Regions from separate parts of the Homo sapiens genome. Here region 1 is linked to region 2. Evidence: fine-mapped expression QTL. Tissue or cell type: anterior cingulate cortex. Region 2 holds a variant in brackets; the other region holds the start of a gene. All regions are shown on one strand. Distances are between the middles of the regions.

Evidence for each region. PIP is the estimated chance that this variant, and not a neighbour inherited with it, causes the effect.
Region 1: ARHGEF16 starts here. The variant in region 2 is fine-mapped to the expression of ARHGEF16 in anterior cingulate cortex (GTEx, PIP above 0.99).

The regions. Positions count from the first base shown.
Region 1 is chr1:3,451,355-3,459,354 of GRCh38, reverse strand. It overlaps ARHGEF16 (Rho guanine nucleotide exchange factor 16), which reads right to left and starts at 4,690. Exons shown (of 15, transcript NM_014448.4): 1 at 4,544-4,690. RefSeq lists enhancers at 654-823, 1,343-2,094, 5,856-6,608.
Region 2 is chr1:3,570,854-3,579,108 of GRCh38, reverse strand. All of the region lies in intron 4 of MEGF6 (multiple EGF like domains 6), which reads left to right. Among named protein-coding and RNA genes, the nearest start is that of MIR551A, 14 kb to the right of the region's middle. RefSeq lists an enhancer at 1,647-2,146. The variant GGGGTCTCTCGGGTGT/T (reference allele first, on the strand shown) is at 5,042.

The DNA.
Region 1 (8,000 bases), 120 kb after region 2:
CTTGTTGTCAGAGTTGCTGGGGAAGGGCCCCAATGTCCCGATCTCTTTCTCGGATCACAACCGGTGTGTGGTTCTCCCTGGCCCCACTGAGGGTCTGGCGCACCTGCTGGAGCCTGGGAGCTCTGGCTGTCTTGCTGATGTGCCTCGGTAGGGTCCGTGTTCGTTCACTGAGCCAGCCTGGGAGCTCTGATTGTCGTGCTGATGTGCCCCCGTAGGGTCCATGTTAGTCCACTGAGCCAGGCACTGGGTGGAACCCTGCCAGGCGGTCACTCTTGTCTAGGGCTGCGCAGATTTTCATATTATTTCTTCCACTCTGTTTTCTCTTTTTGGAATACCCACTAATGAGTATTAAGCTCTGGTGTTTTCTCCTAATTCCTTACCTTTCCTCCCCTACTTTGTTCTCTGTGTGAGGTTTTCTCTACTTGGACTTCTTATTGGCCCCTGGTCTTATCATTTTCATTATCCTCAAAGAGCCCTCTGCTCTTCATTCCTGGCATCCTGCTCTTGCTTTATGGGTGTAACATCTTCTATTGTCTTAGAGAGGAAGGATTACATTTTCTTTGGAGCGAGTTTCTTTCTTTCTGTCGCTGGCTGCTGGAGCTGCGCCCCTGCCACATACTTCCTCCTGTCTCCGCCTCTGCTGGCCTCTGTCTCTCAGGCACAGGGCTTTCCTCAAACATCTGCTGCTGGTGGTTGATTGTTTCTGCTTCTATTGAGGAGACAGGCCTTATGATGGCGGGAGGTCCAAGTGCACACACCCTGAGCACAGGTGTCTGACCGGGAGGGCCCAATGGGACCCCCAGCCCCATGCCAGGTCCATATCCTGAAGCCTGTCCTGCAGGCCGGCTGGTTTCTACAGTGGCCTCTTTCCATTTCCTCACTGAGATGCTGGTCGGCTCCTGGTGGAGCCAGTGAAGGGGAGGGGCTGAGAGGGCAGACTCCTTTCAGCAGCTGGCCATGCTGTCCCGGCTGCAGTGCCACAGAGAGAGGTCAGATTTCCTGCAGCAGCCACGTGGGCCAGTGGCAGATCTGCTCCCCAGCAAAGGCAGCCCTGACTTGCTGAGTGGGGGCTTAGCACAGGGCATGCACAGGGCAGAGGGAGCCGCAGGCTGGCTGGCTGGCTGTCCTGTCTCCCCATGTCTGTGAGCCCTTGCGGGGCAGGGACAGTTTCCTGTTCGTGTCCCCACAGTCGGGCTCAGATTCCACACTGAAGAGCAAATGCCTGCCTCGGCACGTGCTCTGCCCTGGTCTCCTAGTACCTTGATTCTGTGTCTTCCCAGAGAGGCCCTGGTGTTCCGTGCCAAGAACCAACTTGCAAGGGGACTTGGCTCAAAATGAGCAGAGGCTGGGCCAGGGCAGCCCCATAGAGGTTCTGGGCCCATCTGTGCCACTTTTTGGGCGACTTCCTGCTGCTTCTCCTCAGGGTGGGCTGGAAAGGACCTCCCATGGCTGAGCCCTGGGGCCCAGAACTCTCTCTTTTCTCTTTACCACTAAATACCCCACCTGGTATCCCCAACACATATAGTTATGGGGCATGAGGGACTTGCCAGGAGGAGGCGTGCAGCAGAGGCGAGCAGGCGGAATCCATGGTCTCTGGGCAGTCTCAGGGGCCCCCGCCTGGCCGGTCCAAGCAGGTGGAATCTGTGGTCGCTGGCCAGTCTCAGGGCCCCCTGCCCAGCCTGTCCGTTCCTGTCCGTACTTGGCCTTGGCTGATCTGCTGGATCTCGGACCCAGTGTTGGTTGGGTGGGCCGCTCTGTAGCCCCGCCCTCCTGCCCCCTTATCCTTCCGGAGAGATGGGCTTCTAGTGAGTCTAGTGGGCGCCAGCCCCGTGCCTCCAGCATCCCCATAGCAGTACAATCTCCCAGCCAGCGCCTTGGGCTCTGGGCACAGCTGCTGTCACGGCCACCAGGACCCAATTGCCCCAAGTTTGCTGCCCCTCCGGTTAGGATGTTGCACAGGCCTCCAGCTTCATGTGGTCCCACCCTCAGGCATTTCTGTCCCTCCTACCCTGGCCTCTAGGTCCGGCTGACCCCACTCGGCCCAGTGGGGCGCGGCCTCTCTAGCACCTGTCCATCCAACCTCAGTGAAGGCAAACTCAAGCTACAATGATGCCCTTGTACTCCGGTAATTCTGCCCGTCAAACTTCGGACTCAGTCACATAATCGGGGGGAGGACTTGCTTTTGCAAATCATGCAGCACACATCAGCCAGCTCCGTTTGCAAGGTGGCCAGGGATTTGGCTCTGCGGCCTTCACTGGGGCAGTTTTGGCCCCCAGGGCACATTTGCCAACGTCTGGGGACACTGCTGGTAGTCAGGAGTCCTGGCTACTGGTTGGCAAGGCTGCTGGAGAGACCTGTTATCTGGATCAAGGTCCCTAGGGCTGCGGTAGGGAAATCCTAGGCAGCTAAGCAGAGAGCCACCCTGCGCGGTGGGGGCGGGGAAGTGCACCTGGCCCTCCCACCTGGACATAGCTGGTTCAGCCCAAAGTGCATTCCAGTCACTCCCCAGCTCCGGCTCTGAATGAGACATCCCATAAACCCAGCTGCTGTCCCTGGCTCTGCTGCCACTCACGGGGTTCCCCCAAAGGGTGGGAATCAGAGCCTGCCTCTGACAGGTGCCCGTGTGGGTGACAGGTCTCCTGCCACCCGTTCACCCGCTGTAGGACAGACACACAGACAGTGCCCTCTGAATGCCCTGTCATCCACTGTCTTCTGCCCCTCCCCAAACTTCTGGAAGGTGGGTATTTTCCCGGGCAGGTAAGGAAACCAGGTGCAGAGGGAATGTGGCCTGCGGGGGTGGGACTGCTGGCCAGGCCCTGTCCTGACCTGGATGGCTGTCCCCAAATGGGGACCGGGGGGAGTGGGGGTTCTGGCCTCAGCCAGGGAGTCACTAGAAATAAGGACGCTGCTCCAGACGGATGGTCCCCTGTGCTAAGGACAGGAGCAGCCCAGATCCATCTGGAAACCAAAACTAAAACTCAGACCCAAACTCGCGGGGAGCGCCTGCGCCTGGATCACAACGTGAACACAGATGGCCATCCTCAGGATGGGGACCTGCGCGTCACATGTGAGCTGTGGGGACCCTGGCACGCCGCTTCTCACTGCTTCACCTCTGTGCCTCAGTTTCCTCATGTGTAGGTGGAAAGTGCTTCCCACATAGGGTGGTCCTGTGGGTCAGAGATGGCCCCCGAAGAGCCAGCGACCTCAGGGAGGCCCCCCAACAAGGGTTTCTCCCCAGTGTCCAGGTGGAGGGAGGGCCCATCCCACCCTCCAGGTGACTTTGGTCCAGGTGACTTACTTCTTCCAGGAAGCCCCCAAGACACCTCCCTTCCAGCAAGACTGGGGTGGGTGAGGAGTGCCTACCTTCAGCCCATGGCTCCTGCTCTGGACAGTACCTTTCATCTCACCCTGTTCCCCTCTGCTGGCTGTGGGCATCGCACAGCAGGGTCCACGTCTGCCTGGCACACTTGTGGGTCAACATCTTCTAACTCAACACTCCTACTAGTCCCATTTTACGGATGAGGAAACCGAGGCCCCAAGAGCTGCTTAGTTCACAAAGAGCCAGGATGTGAGCCTGAAACCCACACACCTGGGAACTATGCCACGGAGGGGTCAGGACCTGCAGCCAGGCACAGCACCTGGACCCTCTTGCTGGACCCCCAGCCAGGCCCACACGCACCCCCTAGGCCCCCATGTTAGGTGGTGCACAGACTGTTCCCCTCAAGGACACAGAGAAGATTCAGGCCTTGATTCAGGTCAGAAGCAGAGGTCACCAAGACCTGCCATCGCTGCCACTCCCTCAGTCCCCCCACCTGCTCAAATCTCAAAAGGGATACTGTTCCCATTTCACAGACGCAGAAAGAGGCTGAGCGGCCAAGACAAGCGGCCACGGCTCCCTGGTAGGTGGGACGCACCCCTCCCCCTCCCCATCTCCCTTCTCAGGGGAGACAAAGCAGGTCCCTCCCTGCCACCGCCCACCAAGGTCAAGGGTGGGGGAGGGGCGTATGGTTTGGGTTTGTCTTGGGTGTGGGGTTCTTCCTTCTCGGGGCTTTTCTGAAATTTTGGGGCCAAAGCAGGTTTGGGTGTCAGATTCCCCAAAGAGCTCCCGGGAGGGTCGTTCTGTTCCGCCCCCCACCCCATGCTCTTTCAAACTCCCTGGGGCTTCCAGAGTCCTCGGCGCTCAAGTCTGAACCCAGGTTCCGGTTGCATGGAAGTTTTCCTTTAGGAAGAGGAAGCGGCCACTCGGGGTCAAGAGAGGGCAGCGAGCGAGCGGGCGGGGGCAAGCAGGGGGCTGCCTGGTGTGTGTGGGGGGGCGGGTCCAAAGTCGCATCCGGCTCAGCCCGCGAGCCCCGCCTCTCCCGCCCCGGCGGAGCCCCAGGAGGGTCGCGAAGTTGTTGCGGCTGCCGGGGCGGGGCTTGCGGGAAAAGCGAGGGGGAGGAGAAGCGCCCCGGGTTCCCGGCGCCTCCCCCGGGCTAATCCCCCCACCCGGCTCCCCCGAGCCCCGACTCACCTGTCCCCCGGCTCACCTGTCCCCCAGGCTCACCTGCGCCGCGGGGCGGAGGGACGGAGGGGCGGCGCGCTGGCGGTGCAGCTTCCAGCGCCGGGTCCTGTCCTGTCCTGCAGCCGCTTCGCTCCTGCGGCAGCGCGGTCCGGCCCGGGGCGCCTCCTCCGCTTCCTGCGCGGTCTGGCTGGAGGGCGGCGGCTGCGGCCCCGCAGGTGGGCGCTGGGCGGGCGGGGCTGCTCCGGGTCCGAGGGCCCGGGCGGGGAGGGCCGGGGAGGGGGCGGGGCGCGTCCCGGGCACCTGTGGCGGCGCCGCCTGCGTCACAGGTCACAGCCCCACCTGGGCCGGCTGGAGCCCACGTGATCGCCCGGACTGGATCGCGCCTCTCGATTCCCGCCGAGCCGCCGCCGCCCGGTGCCTGCGCCTTCCCTCCCCGCGCCCACGCCCCCTCGAGGCCGGCCCGGGAGTCGCCTGCCAGGCGTGGGGCCAGAGCGGCTCGGCTCCCTCCTGCGTCACTGTCCTTCCAGGCCCCGCTCCACTGCCTCCTCCAGGAAGCCTTCGGGGAAGGAGACCAGCCCTGCGGGGACCGATGTTTGCTGTAGAAAGGCCCGGCCCTCTGGATTCTTGGAAGCCAGGCGGCCAAAGACAGCCAAGAGGGCGCAAAGCACTCTGGCCACCTTTTTGGTGTGGTTGAGTCGCGGTCATCCCCATTTCACAGAGAAGGACCGAGTCCTGGAAAGGAAGGCGCTCGCCCTCGTGCACAAGGCTGAGCCTGGACTCCGAGCCTGGCCTTTCCTTGCTCCGCCTGCTGGGAACCCGTGTGAAAGTGAGGGAGGGCCCCGGGCAGAGGCTGCAGCAGCCCCCCAGCTGGGGGTTCAGGAATCAGGCCACCTGGTGCTGTGGGAGGGGCTGGGGGCTGAGCCAAGCCTCCCAAGCTTGGGCCTGGCCATTCAGGAATGTGACCTGAGGTCCCAGGGCTCAGACCCACTTCTGACCTGCCTCCATCATCCCCTTTTCAGGAAAGGCCTGTTGCCAAAGGCCTCCATGTGAACATCCACACTGGGCTTTGGGTCAGCTTCTACCAGCGTCCCCTCACTGACCCCAGGCCTTGGGGTCGTGGGCCGGGCACCGGTGTGCCAGCCAGAGGCACTGACCACCCTCCTCCCAGGACCTGCCTCCCTGGCCTGGGCGGCCGTGAGATCCCGTTGCGGGTTGAGGAGACACCACAGGCTCTGGGGCTGTCACTTGGCATTTTCTCAGGTGTCATAGGTAGAGGGGCGGCCTGCCCTGCCCCTCCTGCTCTGGTCGCCCCACCCACTAGTCCCCCAATGTCTGCCCTGTGGCTGGGGCTGCCTGGGTGTCAGGTGCCATCTGGGCAGGGCACAGGCTGGCCTCAGGGATGGGTCCCGTGGGCCATCCATCCCCTGGGAGGGAGGGTGGATGAGGGAGGAGCTAAGAGTTGACCCCTGTGGGCTGCAGCCTCCACCTGGAGCCGCCTGTGGGGAGGTTCCACTTCCAGGCAGCTCTTGGGAAAGGCAGGTGGCTGCTGCCCTCCTGAGTCCATGATGGGTACTGCACCGACGAGGCCCGGCCTGCCGGAGGGAGCTGGGGTGTCCCGGAGCCTTGACCCGTGAGGGGACTGAGGTGCGGTGGGGTCACTGAGGCCCAGTGAGGGGACAGAAGCCTTGCCCCAGGCCAGTCAGCAGGACCCAGGTTCCTGATTCCCACTGAGTGCTTTCCTGTAAAACCCTCTTTCAGTAGCTGCCTCCAAGTTACCCCCAACCCCACACCTTCTGTCCAGCCCCTGCTGGGCCCGTTCAGCCACCCTGGGTCTGGCTTCGTCTCCCCATGTCCTGCTGGCTTCCAGAGGCCACTCAGCGTGTGCTTGGGATGGTCCCTTTGCTGGGGATGTCACCTGAGCTGGCGTCAGGACCTCTCTGTGCCTCTGTCACCTCTGCTGTAAATGAGGGCCTGATGCTGGCGCAGGAGATCGCCCTGGCATGAGGCCTAAGGGAGAGGTTGGAAGGAACCAGCTTGGAGACCTAAGGGGCTCGCAAGGAGAGAGAGACTCCGGGGAGGCCTGCCAGTGGGAGGCCTGCCAGTGGGGTCGGCCCGTGGCACTTCCTGCACCTCTGTGGTGGGATCCCGAGCCTGTGGCTCAGCCTGCCCTGGGGGCCTTCCCCTCCCACATTACTGGCAGGGGAGAAGATGTGGATCCCCCAAGCTTAACAGCCACTGTGCATTGCTGTAGGGTGGGCAGCGCTCTGGCCGAGCACCAGTGTGCCAGCCAGAAAGCACACCTCTATCTGCGGGAGCAGAGCTCCTTTCCTGCGGCTTGAGGTGGCCTGAGCTCCTGCGGGCCTTGCTTTGAGTTTTCCAAGCTTTTACTCAGCCACTGGGGCCACAGCACAGACAGCCCGTAGCCTTAGGTGGTACCTGAGGCCAGCAGCCCCTCGGGAGGCCTTTTGGCTCGACCTTCCAGGGTAGGTGTCCAGGGCTGAGGGTGAGCTGAGGCTGCTGGGCAGGTTTGTCCTCCCTGCCAGGCCGAGTGGGCGGTGCTCCCACCTGCTCCCCTCCCTCCCTGGGGCCCTAAGGAGCACACGGGGTGGAGGGAAGGCCATGACAGCCCTCAGTTCTCAGGCCCTCAACGCTGGGCTGCCCTGTTACCCACTGCAGTTCCATGGGTGTCCTCTCCAGCCCGTAGGCAGCTGGGAAAGGGCCCCAAGGGCGCGGCTGTGAGTGGGATGGAGGACAGAGACGCCTCTGCTGGGTGGGTGGAGGCCCATGGCTGGGGGGGCCGGGCTGGTGGGAAGAAGGTTGGGTTTGAGGAGCAAATGCCCCTCCTCCTTGTACCCTAAAATAGCAGGTCATTACTTCCCATTAAGCACCTACTATGTGCCAGCCTCATGCTGGGGGCCTTGCACGCGTCATCTTAGTGAATTCTTACAGAAAGCCCCTCAGATGCCCCCCGCTTAACTGAGAGGAGAAATGTTTTGCCCCTTGTTACCTGGCTGGTAAGTGGCCCAGCCACAGTTAGAGCCCAGGTCTGTCTGACGCCAAAGCCCAGGATCCCTAGTCATCATTAGGGACCATTTCTGGTTTACAAAGACATGCATATAGTATTTATATTTTTATATAAAAATATATAAAAGCAACCCCATGTATCTTCCCCAAATTGAGAATTTAAAACATGTCAGGTGTTTTGGCCATGACGAAGTAGTCGGTACCAGACTTGTCTGTCACCACAAACAACTCAAACATGGAACAAAAAATACGAGAAACAACTCTTTCTAACACTGGACAACAGGTGCAGAGACAGAAATTCCTGGAGAAAGAGGTAAATAAGCCTTTGGCCAAGAGAGGCTGGTGGCCTCACTGGGCTACAGGGGACAGAGTTGGGGAGCCAAGGAGGCCAAGGACTATGGAGAGAGTCCTGGAGAGAAGGCAGCAGTGCAGGGGAGCCCCGAAAGAGTCCTGGAGAGAAGGCAGCGACGTAGTG
Region 2 (8,255 bases):
CGATGGCATGAAACACTCCCAGTGGCCCTGGGGCTTTGGGACTGCTCGTGTGGTGGCCACCGGGGCTCCATGCCAGGCAGATGCCAGGGCAGAGCGAGAGATGCACTCCGGTGCCCAGGCAGGCAGCAGGAAGCGATTCGAGGAAATCGGATGAATCAGGAGGTCCCCGTGTTTGTGAAGGACACCCCTGCCCACTCCACGTTGCGCTGGGGGCCGGGCTGAGGAGGGGTTCTGCAGAGGTGCTGGGTCTCCCCAGCGTTCTGAGCTGGGTGACACTCCTGCCCACTCCACGTTCCGCTGGGGACCAGGCTGAGGAGGGGTTCTGCAGAGGTGCTGGGTCTCCCCAGAGTTCTGAGCTGGGTGCCAGCAGCCTGGGGCATTGGCCATTGTTGGAAAGGCGGACAGTTGGTGCTGGAGGGTTTATTGAATGTCCTCTGTTAGCTGGGACGGCCCCTGCCGAGTCACCGCGAGTGCCTGCTGCTTCCTGGATGCTGGGTGGCTGGGAGGGCTGCTGCAGTGACCATGGACTGAGATCTGTCTGTCTCGTGTGGACGAAAGGGCCCCCCCCCCCCAGGGCCCCTGCCCTGTCATTGCCCTGTGACATCCAGGCTGCAGGCCTTGGCCAGGCCTCCCTGTGGTCCCTCTGCGGGCTGGTCAGAGGTGACCCATCCCTGTTCCGAGGACAGGTGGGGTCCACACAGGATGGAGTGGGCTCCACTGTCACGTTTGGCTTCTTGGGAGCTGTCATTTGGCCACAGGTGGGAGTTGAGAAATGTCCCGAGGGCCTTTCCGTCTCATTTGTCTAATCTTTTGGCAATGTGCGCCGCTTGACTTTGGTTTCACGCGGAAATACCAGGGCTGACTGGGCAGGCTGGGGAGGTTTCCGGGACGGGGCTGTGGCTCACTGGTCGGCCAAGCAGAGCCTCCTGTGGTCTCTGTTCCTAGGGGAGGGCGAGGAGGAGGTGGCCTTGCGGGGTGGCCTTTCCTGGCCGTGTCCTCTGGGAGGGGAGGGAGGACACCTGACCTGCCCCCTCAGGGCTGGCCTTCTGCCCACCGTCAGTCCCCTCCTCCCACCTCATCTTTGTCAGGAGCCAGCTCCAAGCCCCCTGCTCCATGAGACCCTGACGCGTGGACCCCGGGGCATCGGCAGGCACAGGGCTTGCAGGAGGCTCACTGCGGGCTGCACACCCTGTGGGGGAACTCGGCGTCTCGTGGAGGCTCAGTGTCCAGCGTGGGGCGAGGGCTCTGCATCTTTGGGGGTTTGGCATTGTTGGGGGGGCTCCATGCCCAGTGGGAGGGGCCTGTCTTCCCCAGGCCCAGGCCAGCACTGCGGAGTGGGCTCAGATGCCCATGCTTGGGTGCTTGGGGGTGGGGTGCACTCAGGTTCCCTGCGCCCCACCAGCCTCTTGGCTCTGACTTCTGTGTCACAGACTCTCACGGTGCCTGGGCCCGGGGCTCAGCATCCACAGCAGCAGCCCCATGCCCCAGTCACCGTGGGAACGCACCGCAGAGCAGGGAGGCTGGAGGCTGGGAGCTCCCTCCTGGCTCTGGGCCACTCTCTGCCTGCGTCACCTCATCAGCTCCACACTTCATTTGCTTCATGAAAGAGGAAAGCAAGGTTGAGGAGACCCAGCAGCTGCTGGTGCTCAGCTCACAAGCAGCCTAGTTGGGGCTGAAGCCAGGTCTGTCTGAGGAGTGCCATGTGCTCCCTTCTGGCCATGCTGCCACCTGGTGCAGGGACAAGCCTTGGTCCCGGGGGAGCTGTTGAGATTTGCTTTGGAGGAGAGGGGAGCAGGGTCCCCTGCAGGGCAGGAGCATCCTCCCCTGTGGCTGGCTTGTGGCCCTTGGGTAGCGGGCCTCCTGGGAGAGTGGCCAGTTGGGGCAGACGTGGCCTTCACAGGGGGCAGTTGACAAGCTGGAGGGTGGCTGCCCGGCCTCCTCGCTGGTCACTCTCTCGGAAGAAGGGGAGGGTATGGAGGCTGGGTGTGCAGAGCCGAGGGTGCGGGGCTCAATTATGCAGGGCTGGACATTCAGGATGGAGTGTGTAGAGCTGGGTGTGCAGGGCCAGGTGTGCAGGGGTGGAGTGTGCAGGGCCAGGTGTGCAGGGGTGGAGTGTGCAGGGCTGGGCATGCAGGATGGAGTGTGCAGAGCTGGATGTGCAGGGCCAGGTGTGCAGGGGTGGAGTGTGCAGGGCCAGGTGTGCAGGGGTGGAGTGTGCAGGGCCAGGTGTGCGGGGGTGGAGTGTGCAGGGCTGGGCATGCAGGATGGAGTGTGTAGAGCTGGATGTGCAGGGCCAGGCCTGCAGGGGTGGAGTGTGCAGGGCCAGGTGTGCAGGGGTGGAATGTGCAGGGCTGGGCATGCAGGGTGGAGTGTGCAGGGCTGAGGGTGCAGGACTGAGTGTACAGGACTGAGTGTGCAGGGCTGAGTGTGCAGGCCGGGTTTGCAGGGCCAGGTGTGCAGGACCAGGGCTGAGGGGGTGCTGCCTGCAGGTGTAGCCCCTGCCCATAGTGCTCCCACCTAGACCTCTCACCATCACCTTCCTGTCCCTCCTCCACTCTGGGTCTGGGGACTGCAGACCTGAGCTCAAACGCAGTTGGGAATATTTCACTAACCCCCCAATTATAATTGATTCCAGTTTTGAAAATAAAAGCCATATTTTCTGGTTCCCCCAAATTATTTCATTTGAACAAAGGAGTTGGGGAGGGAGACAGGAACTCTCTGGGCAGCTATGGAGGGCAGTGGGGGGAAGGAGCCCTCCCTGCTGCCCACAGCCCCAGCTCTCCCTCCTTGGCCCAGATGGCAAGTCTCGGGTCTGCAGCGGGCGGGGACTTTGCAGCAGTGTTTCCCTGAGGCCCTGGGAGCCCTTCCGCAGAAGCAGCGGGAGCCGTGGGAGCACAAAGCGGGCCTGTCTGCCCGGAGGGTGGAGGGCCCGGCGCTGGGCAGGCCCTGCAGTGAAGGCTTCCCCGGCCCAGTGCAGGCCTCGGCGCAGTCACAGTCAGGGCCAGCCGCTCATTTTGTCCAGGGCTGGCTTTGGTGTTCCCCAGGCCTGTGCCTGTGTGACCGGGGTAACCTACTCCACCTCTTGGACCCCAGTCCCCCTTCTGTTCAGCAGGGAGGAGATTTGGCGATGTTTTGTGCAGGTTGCGTGAGTCCACGTAGGTGAGGCCCGGAGTGGGCCTGGCAGAAGGGTCGGGAAGTGGGGGTCATGGCAGGGACAACCATTGTGATGGCTCAGGTGCAGACTTTGTCCCCAGCTGATATGGTTTGGCTGTGTCCCTACCGAAATCTCATCTTGTATGTCCCATAATTCCCACGTGTCATGGGAGGGACCCAGTGGAAGGTGGTTGAGTCATGGGGGCAGGTCTTTCCCGTGCTGTTCTCGTGATAGTGAATAAGTCTCATGAGATCTGATGGTTTATAAGGGGGAGTTTCCCCGCACAAGCTCTCTCTCTTTGCCTGCTGCCATCCATGTAAGATGTGACTTGCTCCTCCTTGCCTTCTGCCATGATTGTGAGGCCTCCCCAGCCACGTGGAACTGTAAGTCCATTAAACCTCTTTCTTTTGTAAATTGCCCAGTCTAGGGTATGTCAGCAGTTGGAAAACGGACTAATACCCTGGCTCTTGGGGTAATTACACAAGAGCACCCAGCTGCCATGTGGAGTCTCCCAGAGTGGTCCAGGGTTTGGAAGATCCCCCAGGACTGCCAGTTTCCTTGCCCTGTGGGTCTGCAAAGGAGCGAGGGGGACTCTAAAGACCCCCTCCCCTGTCCCTGGGAGGACTTTGGGGTCCCATCAGAGTATCAGTTTCATCAGACCAACCAGGAACAGTTTTCACAGCTGAAAACCTGGCCTCTTCCTGCCTTTGCACCCGGGTCCCACCTGTGTGCGCTGCTCTGGCAAGCGTGGATGGATGCCCCCACCCCTTCCCCAACACCCACTGGTGACCTGGGCTTGGCTCAGAATTGGTAATGAAAAGACCAGCAAGAAAAAGTTACTGAGAACAAATGACCTCCTAATAGATTTGTCTTTTGTAGTACACGAAGTCACAAAAGTCTCTACAGATCTCTTGATCTGGTCTCAGCTGACCTCATGGGACAAGGGCAGGCTCTGAGAAATGAGGCCTGGGTCACCTCTAGGTACTTTCTTGGTTCAAGAACCTTTGGCTCAAGCCAGGCGTGGTGGCTCACACCTGTAATCCCAGTCCTTTGGGAGGCCGAGGCACGTGTATCACTTGAGCTCAGGAGTTCGAGACCAGCCTGAGCAACATGGTGAAACCCCGTCTCTACCAAAAATACAAAAATTAGCCAGGTGTGGTGGCGGGCGCCTCTAATTCCAGCTACCCAGGAGGCTGAGGCAGGAGGATTGATTGAACCTGGGAGGTGGAGGTTGCAGTGAGCCAAGATTGCGCCACTGGACTCCAGCCTAGCTGACAGAGCAAGACCCTGTCTCAATAGATAAATAAGTAAATAAATAAATAGTAACCTTTGGCTCTGATTCCCTTTTGGGCCTCAGTTCCCACCCCCCCACCCCCGGCACCAGTCAAAGGGGCAGATCAGACGGGTCTCCAGCACCACCACACTAGAGTGTTGCCACCCTCACTCCTGGGTCCAGGTGAGTGGTCAGGGTTCCAGTGATGCCCATCAGAGGCTTGGCTGCCCCAAGGGCTTCCTGGAGGAGGTGGGCCTGTGGGCTGGGGAAGGTTTGGGAGGTGCAATTTGTTCCGGACAAGTTTCCAGACAGGACAGAGACAGGAGCAGAGGAGCAGAGCAGAGGAGAAAGTCATTTTGGCCCTGAGGTACGGGGTCGGGAATGAAGGAAGGGTCAGCCAAGCTTCTAGAAGGTCCTCGGCCTCTCTCGGTGAGATGGAGCCAGGCGTTGCTGGGGGCCAGCTGGCAGGTGCTCCTGGGTACCTGCTGTGTGCCTGCCAAGCCGGGGGAGACATCAGTGGTCCTGCCTGGAGCCTCAGCACCCAGGCCCACTCTGAGTCCTGCACCTTTGAAGGAAACCTCGGTTTCCCTGCCTCAAGCAGGAGGCCCTCAGTG[GGGGTCTCTCGGGTGT/T]GGGCCTCTCGGGTGTGGGCTGGAGGTGGCTCTGGCAGCTGTTGGGGCCCTGAGGCTATGCCAGGAAGCAGAGCCTTGGAGAAGGTTGGGTGGCTAGGACTGGGTGGTGTCCTGAGCCCGTTTAGCCCTTGGCGTTGGCTCAGGGCGACTGTTTCTAAACTGGGACCATTGATTAATGGAGAGGAAGCGGCCCTCCCCACTGCCTTTCAATGCTGCCCACTGTGTCTGAGGGTGGGAGTCTGACCCCTCGCCCGAGCTCCAGACGCCACCCAGGGCTGCTCTTGGCGACCAGCCACGGCCAGGCCTGGGAGCTGCCGCTGCCAGACTCAGACTCTGTGCCCCAGGGAGTGGTGGGAGGGGAGGACGGGGCTCCTGGAAGGGCGGGCTCTGGGGCAGGGATGTTCTTTTCACAGCCTCTCTCCATGTTGTGCACTCCCTGGCTGGAGCTGGAGCTGGGGCTGTCTCTGGTCCTGCTCCCTGCCATGGGACCTTGTCCAGAGGCCTGCAGCCTGCAGCAGCCCCAGCCTGGGCTGATTCCTGGGGAGGCATCTCAGCTTTGTCCTGTGGACGTGGCCTCGGGTTAACCTGACCCTGGTCCTGGGCTGTAGTTCCAGGCTCCCCGCACTGTTTCCCGTGCTTACCTTTGGGTGCAGCCAAGCAGAAGGTTTCCATCTGGGCCTGGAGCTGGCTCAGCCAGGAGGCCACCCTGGGGGAGGCTTTTTGTGTCTGGTGTGAGAAATGATCCTAGCATGCCCCAGGAGGACTAGGGGTTACCTGGCGGGGGGACCCAGCACACCTGGGAGGACCCAGCAAACCTGGGGGAACCCAGCACACACAGGAAGGACGCAGCACACGCAGGAGGACCCAGCATACCAGGGAGGACCCAGCACACCTGAGGGAACACAGCCCACCAGGGAGGACCCAGCACACACAGGAGGACCCAGCATACCAGGAAGGACCCAGCACACCTGAGGGAACCCAGCCCACCAGGGAGGACCCAGCACACCCAAGAGAACTCAGCATACCCAGGAGAACCCAGCACACCCAGGAAAGACCCAGCACACCCAGGAGAACCCAGCACACCCAGGAAGGACTCAGTACACCCAGAAGAACCCAGCACACCCAGGAAGGACCCAGCACACCCAGGAGAACCCAGCACACCCAGGAAGGACCCAGCACACCCAGGAGAACCCAGCACACCCAGGAAGGACCCAGCACACCCAGGAGAACCCAGCACACACAGGGAGGACCCAGCACACCCAGGAAGGACCCAGCATACGCAGGAGAACCCAGCACACACAGGAAGGACCCAGCACACCTGAGAGAACCCAGCATACCTGGGAGAACCTAACACACTCAGGAAGGACCCAGCACACCTGGGAGGACCCAGTACACCAGGAAGGACCCAGCACACCCAGGAAGGACCCAGCACACCCAGGAGGACCCAGCATACTCAGGAGAACCCATCACACACAGGAAGGACCCAGCATACCTGAGAGAACCCAGCATACCTGGGAGAACCTAACACACTCAGGAAGGACTCAGCACACCCGGGAGGACCCAGCACACCCAGGAAGGACCCAGCACACCCAGGAAGGACCCAGCACACCCAGGAGGACCCAGCACACCTGAGAGAACCCAGCACACCCAGGAGGACCCAGCACACCTGAGAGAACCCAGCACACCCAGGAGGACCCAGCACACCTGAGAGAACCCAGCACACCCAGGAGGACCCAGCACACCCAGGAAGGACCCAGCACACCCAGGAGGACCCAGCACACCCAGGAGGACCCAGCACACCTGAGAGAACCCAGCACACTCGGGAAGGACCTAGCACACTCAGGAAGGACCCAGCACACCCAGGAGGACCCAGCACACCCAGGAGGACCCAGCACACCTGAGAGAACCCAGCATAGCTGGGAGAACCTAACACACTCAGGAAGGACCCAGCACACCCGGGAGGACCCAGCATACCAGGAAGGACCCAGCACACCCAGGAAAGACCCAGCACACCCGGGAAGGACCTAGCACACTCAGGAAGGACCCAGCACACCCAGGAGAACCCAGCACACCCAGGAAGGACCCAGCACACCCAGGAGGACCCAGCACACCCAGGAGGACCCAGTACACCCTGAAGGACCCAGCACACCCAGGAGGACCCAGCACACCTGGCAGGACCCAGGACACCCAGGAGGACCCAGCACACCCAGGAGGACCTAGCACACCCAGCAGGACCCAGCACACCCAGGAGGACCCAGCACACCTGGAAAGGACTCAGCACACCCACGGGGACCCAGCACACCAGGGAAGACCCAGTGCACCCGCAAGGACCCAGCACACCCAGGAGAACCCAGCACGCCAGGAAGGAACCAGCATATGCAGGAAGGACCTAGCACACCCAGGAAGGACCCAGCACACCCAGCAGGGCCAGCATACCAGGAAATGACCCAGCATATGCAGGAAGGACCCAGCACACTTGGGGGGAAGACCCAGCACCCTTGGGGAGGACTCAGTGTGTCTGGGGGGACACCCTCACCCAGGAACCTTGCTCTCTGGCCTTTGGAGCCGGGAGGACCCAGCACCCTTGGGGAGGACCCAGCGTGTCTGGGGGGGATGTCCTTACTCAGGAACCTTGCTCTCTGGCCTTTGGGGCAGGCTGGCCTTGGTCTCGGTGTTTTCCTGCTCTCTGTGCTCGGGGGTGGGAGTCCTCTGAGAGCAAGAACAGGCTTCTGGCCTCCATGGTGGGGTCGTGTCCTACAAGCACCGGACACCTGACACCTGGGCTGGGAGATGCCTCATTGACTCCTGCCCTTCCTGGCTGTTCTGGGTTCCAGGCTTGGAGGAGCACTCTCTGGTTTCTGGACCATCAGAAAACCCAGCCACTGGCCATGGCTGTCCCCTCCTTGTGGGATGGCCCAGGGCCACCCCTGGTCCCCCAGACCCTCTCTCTGTGTCCTGCTCCCCAGGCTGTTGGCTGTCTGTGCTCACAGTTAATGGGGTCCCTGGAGGCCCCCGAGGAACATGGAGGTGTCAGCCATGAAGACAAGCTGGTGCTGAGCCGGCTCAGAGGGGGAGATAGGGCTGTGGTGTGTGTGTCCCCGTGTGCCACAGCCTCCCTGGGGCCCTGTCCCTGGGGATTGGTGGAGGGGAGAGACTGGGTGGCCCCGGGGGATGGCTGGAGGGAGGGCTGAGCCTCTGC